Regions from separate parts of the Homo sapiens genome. Here region 2 is linked to region 1. The links come from fine-mapping of genetic effects on gene expression. A gene starts in region 1. The other region holds a variant in brackets. All regions are shown on one strand. Distances are from middle to middle.

The links. PIP is the estimated chance that this variant, and not a neighbour inherited with it, causes the effect.
Region 2: its variant is fine-mapped to the expression of PRPS2 in whole blood (TOPMed, PIP above 0.99).

The regions. Positions count from the first base shown.
Region 1 is chrX:12,786,330-12,794,666 of GRCh38, forward strand. PRPS2 (phosphoribosyl pyrophosphate synthetase 2) reads left to right here and starts at 5,083. Exons shown (of 7, transcript NM_002765.5): 1 at 5,083-5,290. The coding sequence starts at 5,169. RefSeq lists a silencer at 5,339-5,788.
Region 2 is chrX:12,823,045-12,831,381 of GRCh38, forward strand. PRPS2 (phosphoribosyl pyrophosphate synthetase 2) reads left to right here. Exons shown (of 7, transcript NM_002765.5): 7 at 1-1,178. It also overlaps the pseudogene PSMA6P2. Among named protein-coding and RNA genes, the nearest start is that of PRPS2, 36 kb to the left of the region's middle. The variant T/C (reference allele first, on the strand shown) is at 4,948.

The DNA of each region.
Region 1 (8,337 bases):
ATCTTGGTTGCTTTGAAGTTTTAACAATTATGAATAAAGCTGCTATAAACATTCATGTGCAGTCTCCTTTGCCCATTTTAAAATTCGGTTGTCTTTTTGAGTTGTGGTCATTTTTTATATATCCTAGATACAAGACCCTCATCAGATACATGATTTGCAAACATTTTCTCCCATTCTTTGGGTTGCCTTTCTTTCTTTTTTTTTTTTTGAGAAGGAGTCTCACTCTGTCGCCCAGGCTGGAATGTAGTGGTGCAATCTCGGCTCACTGCAACCTCTGCCTCCTGGGTTCAAGCGATTCTCCTGCTTCAGCCTCCTGAGTAGCTGGGATTACAGGTGCGCGCTACCACGCCCGGCTAATTTCTTCTGTATTTTTAGTAGAGACGGGGTTTCACCATGTTGGTCAGGCTGGTCTCGAACTCCTGATCTCGTGATCCGCCCACCTCAGCCTCGCAAAGTGCCGGGATTGCAGGCGTGAGCCACCATGCCCGGCCTTCTTTCACTTTCTTGATGGTATCCTTTGAAGCATAAGTTTTTCATTTTGACGTCCAGTTTATATATTTTTGTTGGTGGCGCTTGTGCTTTTGATGTCATATTAAAGAAATATTTGCCTAATCCAAAGTCATGAAAATTTATACCTATGTTTTCTTTTAAGAATTCCATAGTTTTAGGCTTTAAGTTTAAGAATTCCGTAGTTTTGTAAAGATGCCATCTCTACAAAAAATACAAAAATTAGCTTGGTATGGTGGCGTGTACCTGTAGTCCCAGCTACTCGGGAGGCTGAGGCAGGAGGATCACTTGAGCCCAGGAGGTCGAGACTGCAGTGAGCGGTGATCACACCACTGCACTCCAGCCTGGGCAAGAGAGTGAGACTCTGCAAAAAAAAAAAAAAAAAGAAAGAAAAAAGAAAAGGAAAGAAAAGAAAAGAAAAAAAAGAAAAGAAAACAAGAAAAGAAAAAGAAAAGAAAAAAGAGAAGAAAAAAAGAAAAAAAGAAAAGAAAAAGAGTTTTATAGTTTTAGCTCTTGCATTTAGGTCTTTGATCAATTTTAAATTAACGTTTGCATACGGTGTGATGTCTTTATCTTTTTACAGATATATGCAGGCTAAATAATTTAGAGGTGAATATATAACATCTGTAATTTACTTTAAAATACTTTAGATAAAAACAGATAAAGCAAACATGGGAAAATTTTGACAGCTACAAAATCTAGGTGGTGGGTATATCGGTGTTCACTCTATTTTCATCTCGGTTTTTGGATTTTTCTTTAAACAACAGAAGTAAAAGGTAAAGTTCTAGAAATAAAAATCAGAAAAATTACTTGATTCTGAGTGAAAATGTTATTAATAGAGAATTAAAGTTGAATCTATTTTAACTTATTTTTAAAGTACATTGCTTATAAATGTTAGCATTTCATAATAAGTTATAAATTATTTGCCACACCCCTAATAAAAACATACAAGAAAAAGGTTATGTCAGAGTGTCTTGGCATTGCTCTTAGGAACTAGTGTTCTAGAACTTCTTGTTCTAATACAGCAACTATCAGCCACATGTGGCTGATGAGCACTTCAGATATGGCAAGTCCAAATTAAGATGTGCTGTAAGCGTAAAATCTATATTGGATTTTGAAGGCTTGACACAAAAAGATGCAAAGTAGCTCATTAATATGTTTTATGTTGATTACATGTTGGAATGATAATATTTTGGATATTGGATTAAAGTGTATTATTAAAATTACCTTCACTTGTTTTTTATATTCTTTTAAAATACAGCTACTAAAGTGTAAATTACATATGTGGCTTGCATTATATTTCTTTTTAAAAAGTTTAAAATTTTTTCATAGAAACATATAGGAAACAATCATTACATTTCTTTTGGATGGTACCATTCTAGAGAGAAAAGGACTGGACTAGAAGATCCACATTCTAATTCCTTTGCTGCTTTCAACTAGCCATGTGACTTGGGGAAATTTCTTCCGTTTCTCAGCCCTAAAATAGTCAGGGATAAATTCACTCAGCAAATACTTAGACTTCTTACTATATACAAAGAACTTGGCTAGATGATGTGGGAAATAGAAGACGTGAAACTGTTCATAAATTCAAATCATTGTTTTACCGTTAATCTCTATCCATGAGTCAATGAAGATAGAAATCAACAATAGAAAATATCTCATCATTTTAATTTTTTCCACTAACATTTTATCTTAAGATAATGTATATTTTATAAACGGTCTGAGACCCAGATCACATATGCACAGAGTATATGTTCTTTTTCTCTTCTAAGTCTTGGGTCTTTGAACAAGTGTTCCATTTTTCCAGAGGCTCCCCAACTTCAAATGTTGTTCAAGAAGTGCACTGTGGTAGACAGTTGGTGGACAGTACTCATGCCCTCCAGTTGTCCCATACCATGTTGACAGCTGGTCTTGGCCATGTAACTTGCTTTGGTCAATGAGACATTAGCAAGCAAGTTAAAAACAGAGGTTTGATAAGCACTTGCTCATTGAGACTTATCTTCTTGGAACACTCCTTGGAACCTTGCAGCCATGCCGTAAGGAAGCCCAAACAACCATGAAGAAAGGCCCACATGGAGGAGAGAAGGGCCAGGGGTTCTTTCAAACTAGTGATTCTCAACCTGTGGTGATTTTGCTCCTTGTAGGACATTTGGCAATGTCTGGGGACACTTTTGGTTGTCACAGTGGTGGATAGGTGCTACTGGCATCTAGTGGGTAGAGGCAAGGGAGGCTGCTAAACAATCTGCAATGCACAGGACAGTCCCACAACAAAGAATTACCCAGCCTAAATATCAGCTGTGCTGAGGTTCAGAAACCTGCTCTAGACCAATGTTTCCCACAACCTGGCTCCTATGGATCAAGGATAAAGGCATTTGGGAGAGAAAGTTTTCACACTTAAATAAAATTATCTGTAGCTGCTCATTTACAAGTGACAGCTTTCTGAACAGTCTGTGACTCATGATGATTTTTCAATGATTCCCATTAGTATTCTCATCAACCCCAATGGCACATTTCACCTTGTTTACATTTAGCATTTAAGCAGAGTAACTCATCAAACTATTGAACCAACAATCATTGTATTAGTTGCCCCAACTGAGATATTGTTTCTCCTTGGTGCTATCAAGTCCATGGTTTGTCACAATTCAATCCGAGCTTCCAAATCTGCAGCCATTTACCCACCCAAAGACCAGGGGCTTTAACTTTTACTGTTTTATAGTCCATCAGCTTTGGTTCTGTGTTACCAAAGAACCACAGCCCCATCATGCTAAGAGGATGCCACTTTCCCTTTGAGAAGAGCATCTATATATTTAGAAGAAACCATTATTAGTCAATTTTATCTATGAGAGAAATATTAAGAATATAAAAATTATAGTAATTTGCTGATAGTAAATTTTATTAGAAGAGTTTAAATATAACTACATTAGCAGACTCAATAAAAATTTTAAACATAGTGGGTCAAGTATAAATCTCATTGCTATGGTAATTAGCTGTGAAATACATAGATAATAAACCATTGCAGATAGGGGTTTTTGTTTGTTTTCTCACATAATAGGGCACATATGCATCTCTAGGCGGAATGAAAAAGGGCCAGAAATGCTGCTAAAATTGTCAGTTTGAATAACTTTTTGATAGGCTGGCAGATACAAAAGTTTACAAGAAACACTCGATGTGCCAAGTAATCTCCTTGCAAAGTACAAGGACCCAGATGAAAAATCCCAATGATGCGAATCATCCCTGTAATCTCCCAAATCCCATTATGAAGTCTGATTAGAGTAGGCTACAACCCAATTGCAAGTGGGCTTTGCTGTTGATGGAGAGCCAATTCGTGGCAAACATTAGTAAAACCAAGCCATTTATCTACCCGGTTGAATCAGCCTTTGTTGAGGAGTGTGAAACTGTGACCAGCATCACCAACCAGCCCTCTATAGACAGGGACTGCTTTCCTTTCTCCTACACTTGGTTTGTGCCCTGAAGTTGGCTCTGGTACTGCATTGGCATCTTGAGAAAACCTTTTTGCTGGTTTCTAGCAGGAAAGAGAGGAAGGAGGCCCTGACTCCAGGGATGTGGAGGGACTGAGCTGGATTGTCTAGGGAGATCTGTGTTCCTGGGATCAGGCCCTTGAGCACCCAACAGGCAGAAGGTTGTGAAGTGCCCCAAGGACCATCACATCTACCGAAAAATGGTGAATCTGGGGGACTTGGTTTGATCCAGTGAGCCACCAAGAGCAATACTTCCCCTCAGCCTGTGATGAGGACTCACATAGTGGTTGGATTTTTTAAGGACACATGGTGCAGGGGCAACTCTGTAGTTCAGGGGTCATCAAGTTTGAACTATGAGGGACCACATGGCCAATATTTACATTTTGCAGACCAAGCAAGAAAAGGGAAGATATTACGTAGGAACTTACATAACAAGAGAGAAAAAATTGTCACAATGTTTTTATTGATATAATCCAAAATACGGTAATATTTGAGTACAATTATTTGCAACTCACATCTATTAATGAGAGAAAAGGAATTCTTTTGCGGGGGGGATATTTCTCTTAATTGGAGTTCAAAGGCGGTGTCTGCTATCATCACATAAAGTGCAAATGTTCATGTATGAAAACCATGCTTAGCTCTCTGGTACAAACACAGGGAGCTCTCGCGATCTGGCCCATAGGCTGTAGTTTGCAGACCCTTGCTATAGCTGAACACCAGTCGCCCACACTGGGTTTGCGGTGTTCCGGGGTGGGAAGTCGCTCCGGGCTGCGAAGCACCTCGAGGGATCCCCCCGGCCCGAACTCTCCCTCTGTGCCCAGCTAACCGCGGTTCATTGGCTCTCCCCGCGAGGCAGGTCTGGAAGATCAAGAATGAAGCTCGGAGCTCTCTCGCGGAGCAAGGACACCTTCGGGCTTCAGGACCACCCAGGGCGTCCAAAACTGCTGCCAGGGCTGTGCCCCCGCCCCCCGGCACTTTCCAGCTCCCCCTCCACGCCCGCTCTTCCTCCCTCTCTGCCCCCTCTAGCTCCTCCTCCGGCTCCTCCCCCTCCGCTCCTCCCCTTCCCTACATCTAGCCGCCGCGCTTTCCCGCTCCCGCAGCAGCAGCCTCCCGCGTCGCTGTCGCTGTTGCCTCCGCCACCTCCTCCGCCGCCGCGCGCCCCTCGGAGTTCCGCGCCCCACCATGCCCAACATCGTGCTGTTCAGCGGCAGCTCGCATCAGGACCTGTCCCAGCGCGTGGCCGACCGCCTGGGCCTGGAGCTGGGCAAGGTGGTCACGAAGAAGTTCAGCAACCAGGAGACCAGGTGGGGGCCGCGCCGGCGGCCGGGCTAGGGAGAGCGCTGGGCACGCGGCTGCGGGGCCGGGTTGGGGGCCGGCGCCTGCCCGGGCCACCTCCGCGGACGCCGCGCTCCCCCTTCCGGGGCGGGACGGTGGCAACGCGGCCTCCGCGCCCCCGCGCCCGCGCCTGCGAAGAAACCGAGGCGGGGCGCCGCGCGTCCCGATGCGCGCCTCGGCTGTGCCCCCGGTTGCAGGGCCTCCGGTCCTGGGACCGCGGCGACCCGGCGGTCCCGAGCCGCTCCCGGCCTCCCAGCGGTGCCGCCCGGCCTGGCGTCCCCAGCCCGGAAGGGAGACGTCTGGGCGGTCACAGACCGTCGGGGAGAGAGTGGGCGCAGCGGGCGGGAACCGCATCGGGTCAGCGCGCGGTGGAGAGACGTCCTGGGTTGGCTGGTCCCAGTTTCCGCGTCCCTACAAAGCTGAACCTCAGACCAGTGCGTGCGACTAAAGGTTTCCCCCCGTCCCCAACTCTGGTTGCACGCTGGGTTTACCTGGGGACGGTCCGAACGCTGCTTCCCCCGACCTGCCCCCAAGGGTTTGATCCAACGGGCGGAGGATCAGCGATTTTACAAGCTTCCCTGGCTTCTCCTGAGCAGCCAGGGCGCAGACCACTGCGTTATCCAGAGGGTGCAGTTGTGCCAAGGTTTGAAAGACTGTGAGAACCCCAGGACGCACGTGCTGGGCTCCCCTCTGCTCCCACTACTCTTGCTGCTTTAAAGATGATGGACTTTCAGCTTCCTTCTTGTTCTAGGACTCTGCTGTGTCCAGCAACAACGCCGTGATTCGACTGTAACTTTCACCCATTTCTCAAGTCCAGGAGAGCCTCAGGTGGTGGCCATCCTCGGAAGCTGACCTGGGGGGCTCCTTTGTCTATCTGCCTGAGTCCACACAGCTCCTTGACTCATTTCAAATTGGTCTCATTTTTCCCCCTTCTTCCTCCAATGTCTAGTACCGTTAACTGTCCACAGTTACTGATAATTTTTATATCTTTGGCAAAGGTTCAATTTTACCAACATTTTCTAGAAATGGTGTTGGAACAGTTGGACACCCATATGCCAAAAAATATGAACTTCCATCCATACTTTTCACCATTTGTAAAAATTAACTTTGAAGTGGATCATAGACCTAATTGTAAAATCTAGAACTATAAAATTTCTAGCAGAAAATCTTGACTTGGGGTTAGGCAAAAATTTCTTAAGGAGGAGTTATGTTAATACTGATGGGGAAGATGCTATATTTTGGCAAGTCAGCTTTTTAGGATATGTGAATCTTACGTGACTTCTTCCAGGTGGCAAATTCCAGTTATGGCTCCGATGATAATATAAGCGAAGAAACATTGTGAATGAGTGGCAGGTGGACTTTGGCTAAAGAATTCCACTCTGCAGTGTTTAATGCAGAAGTCTGAGAGGATGGTCTAGGGCTCTGGAGAAGGATAGAGCTAGGTTTGAGTGTTGCAGTATTTTGCCAGTCTTGTTCAAGTTTCAGTCGCTGTAAGAACACGAGAAGAAGAATAGTTTTTGTTCAGAAGGTGTCGTCATATAAGTAAAGGAGAAATTTGTTGATGAAGTAAATTTTGAAAGCAAATATGTTGCCCTTCCAGGTACTCAGTGCAGCATGATCTTTTGCTAAGGAGCATGGTTAATCTAGATCAGTTCACTGCTAAGTCAGTGTTGAGTTTCTCCTAAAAATACCACATGTGCCACTGGGCAAAACTCACTCAGACACTGAAGTATGATTGTTTATACATTTGGTTCAAATATAAAGCAGACTCACTTTTATTTTGTTTTTGGCATTTTATAACCATCACTTGATAATTAGAAATCGTGGGACCTCAAAAACCACTCAGCATGAAGTTTGGGAATTGCCTATATAGCTACATTTTATGTTTTTAATGTATAGAGTATAAAAGGTTCACTGCCTGACTTTTCTCTTTTCCATGAACTGTACAAGTACAGAGCTTAATTTTTATAAACAGCCCTCTCTGGACCAGTTACTGTGCTAGGAATCCAGCTTTTAGCTGTGTAATCGTAGAGAGGAAAAACTGAAGGGCAAAATGAAGACAAAATTGATTCAGTTCATGTAAGGGCCCCTTCTTGAATCTGTCACTGAACTAGGATCAGAAATCTGGTTTGCTGTCTCCTGGCCATCAATCCTCCCATTTTGCGTTTTTTATATGCTACTTTACTGAACATAGAGCCTTCCAATTTTACCTTCTTATCCCTAAATCATTTCAGATATGCAGGGAGAGGTCCGCTCCAGCTTCACTATAGACCATGGAAATTCCATGATGACATCTTAGGACAGCAGGTGTCTAGATGTCTCTGTTGTAACATTTTACTATGGTCAGTTAACCTGCTGGCAGAATCTTTAGCTATACTGTGAGACAAGGTTATGCAAAGTTATACAAGGTTATCGGTTACCATGTAATAAATAAAGAGCTTAATGGCTTAAAACAGTAATTGTTGATTTGGCTTACAAATCTGCAATTTGGGAAGGGCTCAGTGAAGAAAGCTTGTTTTTGCCGCGTATGGTCACAGCTGAGGCTGGTCACAGCTGAGGCGGCTAACTGGGGCTGGAGGGTTCTTGAAGATGGCTCACATGACTGAAGTTGTTACTAGCTTTTGCCTGGGAGCTTGGTTAGGAACCTCAGCTCCTCTTCTTGTAGGCCTCTCCATGGGGCTGCTTGAGCTTCCTTACAGCATGGAAGCTGGGTTCTAAGAGCACATGTTCCAAAAGACAGGACATTGAAGCCACCAGTCCATTAAGGACTGGGCTTGCAAGTTGGTGTATCATAATTTCTGTCATATGCTGTTGGGCAAGTACAGAGCCCTCTCAGATTCAAGGGCGGGAGACTAGACCCTGCTCCTTGATGGGAAATGTGTTAAGAGTCTGTGGCTATCTTTTAGTTACCATGCCCGTTTATTGTTGAGTCAGTGACGCTCTTCAGCGTTTTTATTTGGGGGTCAATAAAGATCCTCTGGCAGAATGGCAAATGGATGCTGCCTTCTAGCCACAA
Region 2 (8,337 bases), 37 kb after region 1:
TTTGACTTTTAACAGGTACAGGTGATCTCTTCCTTTGTTCTTTCAGTACTTTGAGGCGACAACTTTCAAGTATATAATTTCATTGTGGAAGTCATAGTTTATATATTTCGAGGTTGCCAAAGGTGACTTCAGATTAAAGCCTTCTGTGTAAATATATACTGATAATGCCTATGGACATTTGGGTAAAACCCTGTATAGAATTAATTATCCTTTTACTTTGGAGTGAACCTTGGAAAATTTATAATTATAATACCATGGATTTTGAATTTTCCTTTTTTTTTTTTTTTTGGATAACTCAGTTTCAGATAAACCATCTTGGTTACTGTGCTTAATTTGGACCAAATTTTATTTAGCTTAATATGGACACTGACACATTTTGGGGGGTATACATTAGACATATCAGAGCAGTGTATTTCTGGATCATTTTTTAAATGACCTCTTCTAAAACATAACTGTCACTTACCTGAAATGCTGCATCCTAAAATTCCAAAATTATATTGAGCAATCGCCAAGGCCTAAAGCCAACTGACTTAAAGGTAATCATTTCAGCTAAGATTAAATTTAAAGCCTAAGAATGTATAGAGCTAGTTTTAAAATAATGATCTCAGATTTTTAAAAAGGATATAGGAACCTGCATTGTCATTCTCTGAATTAAGAACTGATGGTTTCTATCATTATTTAGCCCCACCTTTGTATTTTAAAATCCTTCAGAATACATTTATGAACCAATGCGACTGGACTTAGCCACACACAATGGAAATTCAGACCTTGACTATTTGGTGTTTCCAGTTCACAAAGGTGATGAAGACTGTCTTGGGAGCAGCTTAATCCCAAAATTTGTACATTTCTTGCTGCTCCTGGCGTGGAAACTTAAGTGAGACCACCAAATACATTGGTCCTGTCCAATTCTACTGAATGGGGGTGGACCTGGCATTTATCTGGCCAAAAACAGGAGCCAGAGAAATATGAATATACCAAAGTTGTTTGTTTAGCCTCCAACTTAAATTACATTAGTCAACTTATAGATACTCATATGATCACTTTTCTTTTTAGATACTACATCAACTAGATTCAGGAGTATATCATTTGCAGTGCTTGTATTGGTTTAAAATGTAAGATTTTAAGATCCTCTAACACTGTACTAAAACATTTCAATAAAATCATTCTGACTGCGTTCATAGTTTGTATGTATCATTGTGGAGTAATATGTTTTGACGGAGTGATGTGTTGCAGTACCTGAAAATGTTTGCTACTTTACGATTATAGGCCAGCATACAAAATTACAGAAAAGCCAGAAGTTAATTGATGTCAGCTGTTTTCCATTTTGAAGGTGTTTCTTCCTGAAGAACTTACCAGCAATCGCCTTTCCTCAAAGCGTAACAGCTGTGCCACATAAGGTGTCCACGTTGTTAATTCCACATGTTTCCTATAAAATTAAAGATGGTACAGTGTGTTCACGCATCAGAGTAGTGATGTTCAATATCCATCTATTGGAGCAAACCAAACTTAAATGTAGGCTGCATAAAACTTGTTCATATTCATTGATTTCAGAAGCACCGAGGAGGATTCCTGTCCCCATAGAACAGCCTGTTCAGTGATACTTCAAACTACTCTCGTGAGCGCAAAGTCAAGTCATAATTACGTTCCCCTGGTGAAGCTCAGCTGTAAAGTATGTGTAACACTAAGAATGGCAACATGGTGTCTTGAAGTCACAGTGAAATATGAAGAATTACATCCAGGTCCATCTGAGAAAAAAGGTGATCACAGTGTGAGAGAACATGATAGAATGTACTAGAAAGGAGGGAAGTGAAGGAGAAGTGAAAGCCAAAGACACTTCATCAGCTTTACAATTGCACTTAATAATGCTGCCACACCTCTTCAGAGACGTTTCATTTCCTATGGCATGTCCTATCTAATCCCCTAGCTGAACTACAGGGGACAGGGAAGTAGTGAAGGGAAAGATGGAGTACTAAGGCGTGCAGAGGTTGGAATCACGCTGGGGATACCAGGAAGGGCTCGGTGATCACCATTAGACGGTTCACGTCGGAATTTTCCAGAACCCTATGGTGTGTTCCAGTGTGGACTGACGCAGGACAGCAGAGGGCGTTTGGTACATGATGTGTTTGAGCAAGGATGTGCCAGGGAAGATGGGAGTTAGGGGCTGAAACATACTCAGCTATCCTGTATCTAAATTGCGTGAAATCAACAGGGCTCCTCCTTCTCATTACCAATATTTATCTTCCTGATTTATCTCCCTGTGCCCCAGGAACACATCCCTCCACCTTTTTTCTGCCCCTGCTTTCCAAGATCACATCCTGGGTGGTTTCCTTTATTGCAGTCTTTGAGCTCTGTTTCCTATTCTGAAAGCATAATGCCCAGGAACACAGACTTCACCACTTACCGGAGTTTAAAAACCAACAGCAACAACGACCTTGGGCTGGTTGCTTAACCCCTATGCCTCAGTTTCCTTACATGTGAGATGGGGATAATAAATGAGACGTTATGTGTAAAGTGTTTAGAATTGCTTGGTTTGTACATTAACTTCAGTTTTTAGAGTGAGCCTCCTGAAACTCCCCTAGAAAGAATGTAAGGTATGAAGAGGCAAGATTTTCATGCATTTTCTAGGTGTTCATCCTAGAGGGGAACAGACTGCCCTCCTGCCATTTTAGAAGGGCTACATTGTCTTGGCATGTGACTGCCTCAGTGAAGGGTAGCATTTAGGTGACAAATAGTTGCATGTTAAAAAAAAAAAAAAAAAAAAAACTTGATTATGCTGAAAGTAGTGGTTCTACCAGCATGTCCCGTGGTTCCAGCGCTGGTTTTGCCCACCACATTAACATTTTTTTCGCCCGAGGGCCAGCACTACCAAGTAGAATATGCATATGCTTTTAAGGCTATTAACCTGGGTGGCCTTCCATCAGTATTTGTCAGAGGAAAAGACTGCTGTAATTATCATACAGAAGAAATGCTTGACAAATTATCGGATTCCAGCACAGTGACTCACTTACTCAAAATAACTGAAAACATTGGCTGTCACTGTGATGACCGGAATGACAGAGGTACAGAGGGCACGCTATGGGGCAGCTAACTGGAAATACAAGTACGGCTATGAGATTCCTGTGGACATTCTGTGTGGAATTGCTGATACTACTCAGAATGCTACAATGAGGTCTCTTGGTTGTATGATTTTCATTGGTATAGATGAAGAACAAGGCCCTCAGGTGTGAAAGTATGATCCTGCAGGTTACTGCTGTGATTTAAAGCCACTGCAGCAGGAGTTAAACAAACTGAGTTAACCAGCTTCCTTGAAAAAAAAAAGTGGGCCGGGTGCGGTGGCTCACGCCTGTAATCCCAGCACTTTGGGAGGCCGAGGCGGGTGGATCACCAGGTCAGGAGATCGAGACCATCCTGGCTAACACGGTGAAACCCAGTCTCTACTAAAAGTACAAAAAATTAGCCGGGCGAGGTGGCGGGCGCCTGTAGTCCCAACTACTCTGGAGGCTGAGGCAGGAGAATGGCGTGAGCCCGGGGGGCGGAGCCTGCAGTGAGCCGAGATCGCGCCACTGCACTCCAGCCTGGGCGACAGAGCGAGACTCCGTCTCAGAAAAAAAAAAAAAAAAAAAAGTGCAAAAGAAATTTGATTGGACATTTGAACAGACAGTGGAAACTGCAATTACATGCCTGTCTACTGTTCTATCAATTGATTTCAAACCTTCAGAAATAGAAGTTGGAGTAGTGACAGTTGAAAATCCTAAAGTCGGGATTCTTACAGAAGCAGAGATTGATGCACTCACATTGTTGTTAGTTTACCAAATCCATGATGCCACTTACCTGTGTGTTTGGTAACAAAAAAAACAACATTATGGAGGTCCCTGGATTGAAAAAGGAGCCTCTCCCACTCCTCCTACTACTGAATTGATTAGGACTCTATAAATAAAAGCAATGCTTTTGGTATCTCAGCATTTTAGGAGGCCAAGGCAGGTGCATCACCTGAGATCAGGAGTTTGAGACCAGCCTGGCCAACATAGTGAAACCCCATCTCTACTAAAAAATACAAAAATTAGTCAGGCATGGTGGCGCATGCCTGTAATCCCAGCCACTTGGAGGCTGAGGCATGAGAATCACTTGAACCTGGGAGGCAGAGGTTGCAGTGAGCCATGATCACACCACTGCACTCCAGCCTGGGCAACAGAGCAAGACTGTCTCAAACAACAACAACAGCAACAACTTTCAGCTGAGTGCCGTGGTGCATTCTTGTAATCCCAGCTACACAGAAGGCTGAGGCAGTAGGATTGCTTGAGCCCAGGAATTTGAGACTGGCCTGGGCAACATAGAGAAACCCCGTCTCTTAAAAACAACAACAATACTTCCAGTGGGCTGTAGAAACAACAGGTAGGAATGAATGTCATGTGATTATAGAGATGGTAATCAATTGAGGTCATTTACAACAACCTGATTTCATTGTAGCCCTCATTCACCATCCATCCCATCATAAATACAACCAAAAGTGGTGCCCAATATAAATGGGAAGAACAGTCTTCACTATCCTAACAGCCGAGTTCTGTGGCCAAAAGAAAACCTGGCTGAATGAATTTTACATTTTAAGAGAGTGATAAAAAAAGAGAATAGGAAAGTGAAAAACATAATGCAGTGGAAAATGCCCTAAATTGGAAGTGTGGCGATCTAGATTCTGGTTCCTGATATGCTGCTAGCAAGCTGGGTGACCTTGGGAAAAATGTGTACACCACTCTGGGTATGAGCATCTTTCTGCAAAAATTAGAGGAAAGATGATTGCAGAAGTCCCCAGCAGTTTTAATAGGCAATGCCATTTATGCTAGATGTAGTTGGAATAGTTCTAACTGAAGGCACAGATGGTTGCTCTCAATAGGGTGACCAACTTGTCTTGGTTTGCGTGGGACTTTTCTCGATTTAGCCCTGAAAGACCTA[T/C]ATCTTAGGAAACCCCTCAGTCCTGGGCAAACCAGGACGTTTGGTCTCCCGTTCCCTCTTCTAAGGTGGATAGTTCTGCATCCCCGGCACTACCTTGGTAAGGAATCCCACGAGCATGGCTTTGATCTTGTGCTGGTTGCAAAAACAAGCAGGCTATATGATGAGCCCAACAATGTGCAGGGCACCTGTGGTATCACAGGTCTTTTAAAATCTGTTCAACTAACTATAGAAGCTCAAGAGCTGTAGTCACAAAATCAGAGAGAAAAAGCAGGGGCACCTTTAGAAAACACCTTCAAGCCTGGCTTGATTGCCAGTCCTTTGGCACAGCTACCTTTAACACCATAAGTGGTCTTCAGAGACCCCAGGGAACAGTCCAGGCAGAAGGCAGAGTGCTCTGAAGGTTACCTGATGTACGTTGTCCTTCCGCACATTGAGAGATTCTTAACATTTGTGAGGGCATGGCCATCTGTGTCTGAGGACGTATGATGCTCTGATTTTCCCTACACAAGGAGTGCTAAATCTAGTATTTTCTTGCATGGAAGCTAAGACTGACCATGAATTATGGACATATTTTAAGAACTAAAACTGAACACGTCACTCTTTAAAATCATCCTAATGATTATTTCTGGGCATATTTTGATGTACATTTACCATAGGATAAGCTCAGTATGTGCCATTGACATTTACTCACCCAAGGAACCAAGGAGCGACCCTAAATTTCTTTTCTTTTTCTTCCTTTCCTTCCTTCCTTCCTTCCTTCCTTCCTTCCTTCCTTCCTCTCTCTCTCTCTTTCTTTGTCTCTCTCTTTCCTGTTTTTTTTGAGACAGAAGGTCTCACTATATTGCTCAGGCTGGTCTTGAACTCATAGTATCAAGCAATCCTCCTGCCTCAGCCTCCAAGTAGCTGGAACTACAGGTGTGCACCACCATGCCTGGTGCAACCCTAAATTCCTTTAAGTCTCAGAAAACCTTGTATTTAGGACCAAGGCTATGGAACAGAAGAATCAAAAGAAAGATAGGCAGAGATCCCTCTCCACAGCAATGGTGATCTGACCTCGCATTAATTTCTGCACCTGGATGCATTCATAGCATTCAAAGAGCAATTCTTTCTTGAACACCGACCAAGACTCATTCCTTGTCCTAACAACAGTCAGGCTCCTCTGAATCCTCTCCTTGACCAGACCTGTCTTGGGCTTCCCTCTCTGTCATTGTGGAATTTAGTTTGAGCAAGAATCCTGTGAAGTCAGTTTATCAAAAAAACTCCTGCCCTTGGTATCTGACCACCCTCGATATCTTATCACCCAGGCTTGCCTTTAGCAAGAATTCTATTTGAGTTGATCTAGCAAGAATCCCTCCTACCCCTGATGTTTCCTTAGTGGTTTTCCATCCACGGCCCCCAACCCTGCTCGTTGCTTACAAATCCCCACTTGTCCTTGTTGGAGTCAGAGCTGAGATTAATCTCTCTCCCCCACTATAAGACCCCATTGCAGTCTGTGGTCCCTAAACCTATCACAAAGACCCCCTTGAATGAAGTCTTCCTTAGTGTCTTCAATGAATGTGATGAATAACTTTTTTTTTTAACAATACAAAATTCACAGAAAAAGTCCTATGAATTAAAAAGCACTCTGGGGAAAACCAGTTGGCGCGAGAGTTATTTTGGAAGAATCAATAATCCTCCACTGATGTGCATTGGTACAGCCATAAACACACTTTCAACCCTTGCGTTTTGGAGAGGTTTTATTACATGTACATAAATTAGGAACTTTAATACATCGGAGAAATACCACTTGCTTCTCTGTATTTTGACTCATGTGAACATCTTGGCTTAGACATATGTCAAACGGAAAATTCATATTTTTAGTCCTTCCACAGGCAAAATGAAGGAGTTGGTCTTGTTTCATTCATTCATTCATTCATTCATTCATTCATACACTCAGCAATCCCTTATGAAGCACCTATTAGTATACCATAGTGTTAGGATGCGGCTGTCATATAAGTATGAGATAAATAAAATACATGAATAAGGCTTATGTAAATCTAGCCTTCAGAGTTGACACAGGTCGTTTTTTGTTTGTTTGGTTGGTTGGTGTTTTTTTGAGATGGAGTTTCACTCTTGTTGCCCAGGCTGGAGTGCAGTGGCATGATCTCAGCTCACCGCAACCTCTGCCTCCCGGGTTCAAGCAAGTCTGCTGCCTTAGCCTCCCGAGTAGCTGGGATTACAGGCATGTGCCACCACGCCCGGCTAATTTTGTATTTTTAGTAGAGATGGGGTTTCTCCATGTTGGTCAGGCTGGTCTGGAACTCCCAACCTCAGGTGACCCGCCTGCCTCAGCCTCCCAAAGTGCTGGGATTACAGGCATGAGCCACCGCGCCCAGTGACACAGGTAGTTTTATGCACAATCATTTGATGTCAGCAACACAGAAGTATGATGGCACCATGCTGTAGGCAGGATAATTTATTTGGGGTGTGTGAAACAGTGGGGTGACCAGGAAAAGGCTAGGAATGTGGCCTGCTGGGTTCAATTCTCAGCAGTGATTCCAACACTTTATCCCCCTCCCCAGATTTTCTGGTATATCAGGCTTTGTTCTTTTAGTATTTGTGTTGGTGTGTTCCTATTCTTTTGGTATTTAAAAAAATTGGAAATCGGAATCATTTATATTGTGAGCCTACAAAGACAGCTATATTCAGCATTAAAATGCAAAAAGAACAAAGGTGCACTTGTTTAAAAAGTATGTGACCCCATCTCTTCCAGATCCTCCTACGAGATACTCCATTGTTTGCAAAGCCAATTCTGGTATACTTCTGCTGTTGAGCTTTTTTTTTCCCACATTTATTAGTTTCTTATGTTTCTCTTGTATTTTCCTGAGAGCCAATTTTATCCGCAATAAAATTCCCAAAGTCCTCGATGGAGGCATTTCAGAATCGGGGCAGGGGAGGCAGAAGGTGAGACAGATGTGAAGAACTGGAGGAGGGTGTTGGGGGTGGAGAAACGGGAGGGAGGTTGGACAAACTAGCCCAAGCACCAGCATTTCCCCGGGGCCAGACACTCCCCAGGGACAGATTCCCTGCTTTCACCTCCCAGCATGTTTCAAGGTTGTTCAGCCTCAACACTCTTGCCATTTGGGGCTGGCTCATTCTTTCCTGGGGGAGCAGCATCCCTAGCCTCCACCCACTAAATGCCGATAGCAACCCCCATCCCACATTTGTGACAACCAAAAGATGTCTCCAGACCTTGCCAATGTTCCTTGGGGGCAAAATCACCCCTGCTTGACAACCTGATTTATTTTAACCAAGACTTTCTTCCTCAATCTTCTTTCCTGAAGACTCAGGTCAGAGTTACAGAGGAGATTCATCCTGGCCCCTGGCCCAATCACAACTAAAAAAGCATTT